Linked DNA regions of Homo sapiens. The protein of the gene in region 1 interacts with the protein of each later gene in a pairwise test. Each region holds a gene or a part of one and is shown on either strand. Other genes may lie near its edges.

Region 1 (3,915 bases):
CAGCTCCATCCAGTTGGCTTCGTAGAGCTTAGGCCCAATCAGAAAATTTAAATCCACAATTTTGTCATCTTCGCGGACGAGGGTCGCAGTCAAACCCAGCTTACAGTGGGCCTGCACGATGGTGAGCACCCTTCGGAACATCTTGGCTGAGGAAACAATGGGAGCATTCACACTGTCACTTTTCTTTCTTATTTTTTATTTATTTATTTTAAAATATTTTTTGTAGAGATGGGGTCTCATTATATTGCCCAGGCTGGTCTTGAACTCCTGGCCTCAAGCAATCCCCCTGCCTTCGCCTCCCAAAGTGCTGGGATTACAGACGTGACCCACTGCACCCAGCCTACACTGTCACTTTTTCAAATGCTCATAGCTGTGCAACTTAACACTGGCTTATGACACCACCTGAACTAACCCTTGGGTTTCAGGACCACAGAAGCTGGCTCTAGACAAGAATGACTAGGCAAATGCTTCACCATCACTTTTAGACCTGTCCAAAAGAAAATGAAAAGGAGAACAAGAGGGTGAAATGAGCTTAAGGAATCTCCAAGTTAATGAATCCCAGCATTCCCCTCACAACAGTTATCAGTAGAAGTACAGATGGCAATTTGAAATACAACCTGCAATACTTACTATTAATACCATTAAGCTCTAAATTACGCAAAGAATTTTCCCCTAACACTTGTACCCAGGTTACTGAAAAGAAAGTTGACAATCTAGGGAGAGGAAGAAATGAAAGAAGCCAGCTCTTCTCAGCTTCCCATCATTTTCCCAGAAACCGAGAAGAAAGCCAAGCCCACGGGAGTGATGAAACTCCAGGAACTGTTCGCCCAAGCCCTCCGGCCCGCCTTAGGAAACTCCCCTCTCCAAACTTTACCAATTCAATCACTTTGGTCAACCAGCAACCTCTTTTTCTTCCTTTCTTTTGAACATTATAATTCTCTCTGGTTTATCAAATAAAATAAACACATAAAGGGTATGAGTTATTCATTTTTAAAAAACCTAATTTATGGATTTCCACGGGCTCACCTTTTAAAAATTCTAATACTCTGAAGCAAGGTTAAAATGTTTGAGTCATGCTTATCTTACAATATAATTGAAAGTAGGGCTAATGATATTTCAGAAATAAATAGACACAAAAATCTAAGGAAAAAGAGGCCTGAATGCACCAAAACACAAAGACGTTCACAGTGAAATAACATAGGGTTGCCTAACTCTAAGTAAATGTTTAGTTTTTACATCTACATGGTTTGCACACAACACCACATGCAAACACACACACACAAACACACACACACACACACAACACAGAAAACAAAATCAGCTCAGGGTTATGTCTAAGGAAAGACTGTGCTGGCTCCAAAATACAGTAGCCAAGAACCTCAGACCAAGCTCCCCATGTTAGAGGGAAATGGTAGTCAAGGCAATGGCTACACCAACCCAGTGTGGGCCCCAGAGAGGCAACACTGGGGGACATACTGACCCAAGACAAGGATAAGGCAGGTAGGACTCTGCCTGGACACCCGTGACCCCATCACACCCCTCTATTACACTCTCCTACAGCCCTGACAGCTGTCACAGGTGAATAACTCACAGCATACTACTCAATATATTTTTACAGACATGCAGCTGTGGAACCACCTAGATCAGGATATAGAGAACCAGGCACCCAGAGGTCTCTCCCCTGACCCCTTCTGTCAATAACTAGCACTCTTCCTTGAGGGAAACACTCCTCTGACTTCTGAGAGGGGTCTGCCTCCTTTCTGAACTTTGCATGAATGAAATCATAGTATGCACTTTTGTGTGTGGCTTGTATCACTCAACATTATGTCATGGTTGTCATTTGGCATTTATTTGTGTGGTTACTTGGCTGTCCCTTCCACTTTGTCTCCAGTGCCAAGTACAGTGCCTAAACTTAGTAGGTTCTCAATAAATACCTGTAGAAATAATGAAACTGGCACAGTACCTAGCACACAGGAAGCACTTAATATACACAAGTACCATAATATGAATCATTAATAAAAAGGCATAACAGAGCTCCTTTTGAAAAATCTGTAAAACAGCACAGCAATCTTTATCCTTTGAGATAAATCTCAAAGATTGATCACTCCACCTAACCCAACACAGCAGACGTTAAGACAGTCAGGAGACTTACTGTGACTTCCTAGCATTCCCTTATTTAACATTTGCTCTCTGGGACAATGAGCATGGCCAGGCCACTGGGCTTATGGGGCCTGTACTCAAAAATCCCTTAGAGTTTGTTGGTTTCACTCCGCAACTCAACCAAAGACTAACTCATCCAGTGAACTAGACGAGAGACAGACAAACTCACAGACATATGTGAGTGTGAGATGCACCTTTTTGTACTTGTTCATCAGATAACCAATCCCAAATCTGTGCTGTTGTCCCCTGGAACCTGGGACCTGGGGCTTGGGTTAAAGAAAAACATGAACGTGTACCAAACATATAGTCAGACAGAATGCCTCAAGCCCTGAACACAGCTTCCAACCAAACTGCTACAGAACAATTCCAGACTCCTTTGTGGGTAGTGATTCTCTGTACCATCAATTTTCAATCCTAGCAGACCCAATACCCACCCTTCCACCTTTTTTCTTTTGAGTTTTTAAATTCTCACAGTAAAACTGACTTGGGGCGGGGGGTGGGGGGGGCACTTCTATGCATTTTAACATATTTACATTTTTGTAACCAGCACCACAATCAGGGTACAGATAAAGACAGCATCCCCCAAAATTCCCCTGTGCTCTCCTTTAGAGTCATCCATCTCTGACCCCCCACTTCTGGCAACCACTGATCTGCTGGCCAGCACTATACTGTCGTTGTATAAATGAAATCACATACTATGGAAGCTTTTGAGGCTGACTTCTTTCACTCAGCACCATGCTTTTGAGATTCATCCAGGTTGCAACATGCAGCAAGTTTGTTCTTTTTCACTACTGAGTAGTGTTCCAGTGTATGGATGTACCACAGCTTGTTTATCCAGACACCCACTGATGAGCACCTGGGTTTTGGATATTATGAACAGAGCTGCCATAAACATTCGTGTACAGGATTTTGTGTAAACCTCTTTTCATGTATCCAGGATACACAGGAATGGGACTGATGGGTCATGTGGTAATTTCATAATAAATGGACAAACTGTTTTCCACAGTGACCATACACTTTGCAATCCATCCCTCCAGGAATGTGTGACAGTTCAGTTGCTGTGACCTCATCAGCACCCGCACATCAGTATTTTTTATTTTGGCCCTTCTAACTGGCATATGGGAGCATCCTGTGGTGGGTTTAAATCTGCAGTTCCCTGATGACTAATGAGGTTGAACCCTTTTTCAAGTGCTTTTTTGACATATGTATATCCTTTTTTGGTGAAATGTCTATCAATTTCTTTGGCCTATTTCTTAACCTTTTTGCCATGGCCTGAATGCCTAACAGGAAACTCAAATTCACACATCTAAAGCCCAACTCCTGATAGTCACCTTCCAGACCAGCTCCTTTGAGAGTGTTCCCCATCTCAATTAATGCCCACTGTATCCTCCCTTTGTTCAAGCCAAAAACCTTAGTGTCATTCTTGATTTCTCTCTGATTCCACACCTGACCTGTCAATTAAAGCTTCACAACATATCCAGAGTCGGATCACGCCTTCATCCTTACTGGGATTCCACAAACTCACCTCACCGCTTCTGTCTTGCTTCCTTCAGTCTATTTCCAGCACAGCAGCCAGGGCAGTATTTTTACAGTGTAAAGTCAACTCATGTCATGCTCTGCTCAAATCCCTCAGATGGCTTCACACTAAGAGTACAAGCCAAAGTTCTTGTCGTGGCCTACAAGGTCCTACAAGACCTGCCCCAATACCGCTAATCTTCCTCAGCCTTGACTACTGTTCCTATGCTCTCCTCTGGC
Region 2 (3,409 bases), on another chromosome or scaffold:
TGAGGCAGGAGGATTACTTGAGCCCAGGAGTTCGAGACTGCAGTGAGCTATGATTGTACTACTGCACTCCAGCCTGGGTGACAGAGCAAGACCCTGTCTTAAAAAAAAAAAAAAAAAAAAAATTTCTACTGGATCTTCCTTCCTTTTGAGAGATAGCAAGATTACATCAGTTTTCCAGTTGTACTCCTTGAGAGCTGCCCCTGAGTACTGAGTGTAAAAGATGAGGAATGAGTCTCTTACAAATTGATGTACTTAGGGTCAAAAGGATTATCCTAGTCATTTTTAGTCATTTTTCAAAGAATTACAAAATGAGATGTTCAGTGACCTTTGGTACTCTGACAGTAAATAATGACATTGGTCAGTGAGGTATAGAGAATGAAAGGATGTGAAGATACCCTGCTCTGTTTGTTCTCTTCATTCTTAGCAGTCAAGTCAGAGCGCAGCCCCCACTGCCAGTGCAGCCACACTCTGCTACAAAAAGCTCAACTAGTACGCCAAGGGGCCAGGAATTACTTTAATTTTTTTTTTTTAAAAAAAGGTTTAAATGGCAACACAACTGTAAAGTTGGTACATCACAGAAACAAAGGTCTTTGCAAGCAATACTGATTGGAAATAGCAAAACACTTGGCTGGTGAAAAAAATGAAAATCTAAATTATATACAATAGTAGCTAAGGGTGATATTGAAAAAGTCTTTTTAACTGTGAATCAAGATTTAACTTGCCATTATCTATTGCTTATTTATTCAGGGTTGTAAATATTACTTATATAGAGACATAGAGATGTGTAAAAATGAAACATTGTGAAAAAAATACAATTTTTCAATTTCATATGAAACTCAAAGTATAAGTTTTGTCCAATATGGAATGTACCTACATTTGTTTATATTAGGGCTCTAAAATCCATTTAAAAATTGTTTTTCTGTTTTTAAAAAAGAAATAGCTGACCCACCATGCAAGTTCGCTATATATCTTGCTTGCTCAAAATGAGCATTTTCAGGTGAGGTCTGTTTTTTCTGGCCCAAGTCTACTATGATTCCTTAGAAGTCGTACTGGCCCAATTGAAGAAAGGGTTTCCATGAAGAGTCTGACGGCGGCATCTGGATGAGGGGTGGTCCGGGTAATGGGAAGTGAGTAGAGAAGAAGGAGCTAAGAGCCCAAATCCTTATGAAGGATGACATTCAGTTGTTAAATTTTAAGGGGTATCCAATGGCTTTTTCCAGGCACTCAACTAAAGAGCCTGCGGAAAGAAAATCCCTCTCTACTTCTACAAATTTGATGTAGATGGATTTGGGGGAAACTCCGGGATCCACAATACAGTTCTGAGACAAAAACCCGTTAATACCAACCCAATCTTTGCTGAAGGTTTTGGTATTCGCTTGGAAATGTAAAAATAAGCACTGCTGTAGAGTCCTGACCTCAGCAATCCCGAGGTAGCAATAGATAATTCGGGTGGGTTCTATTTCCACCTGTAATGAGGCTTGTGCTGAAAGGGTTTCCAGGTCAACCCGGCCCTCTTTTCCTGGGTCCAGGGAACTTTGCTCCATGTGTGGTGAGAGGGGCCTCTCAATACATTCTTCATAGCCAATGGCATAAAGGCCTGGGCTTTTAGGAATACCCCCAGGCAATAAATATTGAACAACATTCCCACCAGTTGGTTTGGAGTGGGCAATGGGTATCCAGTCAATTTCCATGTGCAGCTCCAAGCACCTAGCTTCGCTAATAGTGATCTCTAAAAATTTGTAGTAAACATTTTTCCAGTTCATTTTCTGCACTCGGGTCATAATGATCCGTCCTTCAGGCTTCTCAGAGTTGAAGTACTCCCGAAGTCGCTTGCCAAGGGGCACCTGGGAGCTGATCTCAGCATAATGGTAACGGATATCCTCTTTCCAACGGGTGTTATAACCAATTCCAAAAATGGCCAGTTTATTAGAAAGATGGAGCCTTGAAAAGTCTGTCCAGCTCTGAAAAAGTTCCCATTTCAACTGTACCGATTCCAAAATCTGTACAATATTCTGCATGATGTCTCTCTTCCTGGAAAGACAAATAAAAGTCAAATTCCCTAAGTATCTAGAACAGCGGTGTCAGATAGAACTTTCTGTGATGATGGAAATGTTCTGTATCTGCTGCCCAATATGGTGGCCACTAGAACATGAAATGTGGCTGAGGTATTACATTTTTAATTATATTTAGTTTAAAATTACATTTAAATAGCCACATGTGACTAGCAGCTACTGTACTGGGCAGTGTAAGTCTAGACAATCAACCTATTAAAATGAAAAGAAACACACCCCTAGCAAGTTTCTAAGAATTAATGATAAACTGCTTTCCATGACTTCTACAGCCTCACTGTATAATCAGAATCAATACCTTAGACTCTAGGATTTCAGAAATCTATGGATCATAATATTTTAAAGTGGCTATTATGTCTATGATGGCCTTCAGACCTACCTACCTACCAAAATAAGGTGAAAAATGCTGTATTTAGAAAAGTATCTGGCGTCACTTAAAATAATTAACAGCTTAATTTCTAACCTGGAAATTCAGAAAGTCCAATAATGGGCTTTGTGTGTGCTGTGGGAAAATATACAACTGATTATGGCTAATGACCTTTTTAAAATGACATTTTCTATTTGTCTGAAATTCATTACTAATCCCAAAATTAATAGAAGTCAGGTTAGCACAGAATTAAGATCTGGGAATTCAGATGGAAAAGGCTCACATTAGGCTTAGATTTCAAGAGAGCAACATTCAAGATAATAAATTGAGACTGTTCTAGAAAACCCTTTATAAAGGGAAGCAAAAATATAGGAATTATTTCAATTTTGACTCATATACTTAACAGAAGAAGACAGAAAATGCTGGAATTTTTATTTCACGGGCTGCTTAAATCATGTAATTTGTATATATATGAAGCTATATAAAGTTTGCTTCTCAAGTACAGCAAAACTTTGATACTGGAAGATTGGTTCGTTAAATATTAACTTGGCAACAAACTACTACCCTCCACATCAATTACGGGTTTAACCTATAAAAACACTCAACTACCACACTTACATACAATCATACACAGGCAAGAAAGGGGGTGTGCGTGCTAACAGCTTCTTGAAAACGGGCTCTGGAAGGAGCTTGATCCTTGAGACTTTTCCTGCTACGTTCTCATACCTTCTAGGGGAGGAGCTTTGGGAACATTCTGGCGAGGCTTCACGTGGCCATTCTCAGTCTGTCCTCTCGCTCTCCTTGACTTTCTTTGCAAGATGGCAGAGAATTAATATTTTGTTATCAGCTGCTTCTTGGAGCTAAGACTGCCCTGAATTTACCCTCTATCCTTTAGTTTGTCTTGAAAGCTTTCAAGTATGAGAGTGGCTATCTAGATGAAATCACTACCTTCTCAGGGAATTATTCCTCTTCT

What was found. The genes of interacting proteins can lie anywhere in the genome.
Region 2: the proteins of ERCC3 (region 1) and MSANTD2 interact in a two-hybrid assay, tested with the Homo sapiens proteins (one large-scale study listed by BioGRID and IntAct).

Annotation. Positions count from the first base shown.
Region 1 is NC_000002.12:127,280,486-127,284,400, forward strand, and holds part of ERCC3 (general transcription and DNA repair factor IIH helicase/translocase subunit XPB), read right to left. Parts: intron 147-3,915; coding exon 1-146. UniProt on the Homo sapiens protein: ATP-dependent 3'-5' DNA helicase/translocase. Binds dsDNA rather than ssDNA, unzipping it in a translocase rather than classical helicase activity. Component of the general transcription and DNA repair factor IIH (TFIIH) core complex.
Region 2 is NC_000011.10:124,765,998-124,769,406, forward strand, and holds the end of MSANTD2 (myb/SANT-like DNA-binding domain-containing protein 2), read right to left. Parts: intron 2,032-3,409; coding exon 1,179-2,031; 3' UTR 501-1,178; downstream 1-500.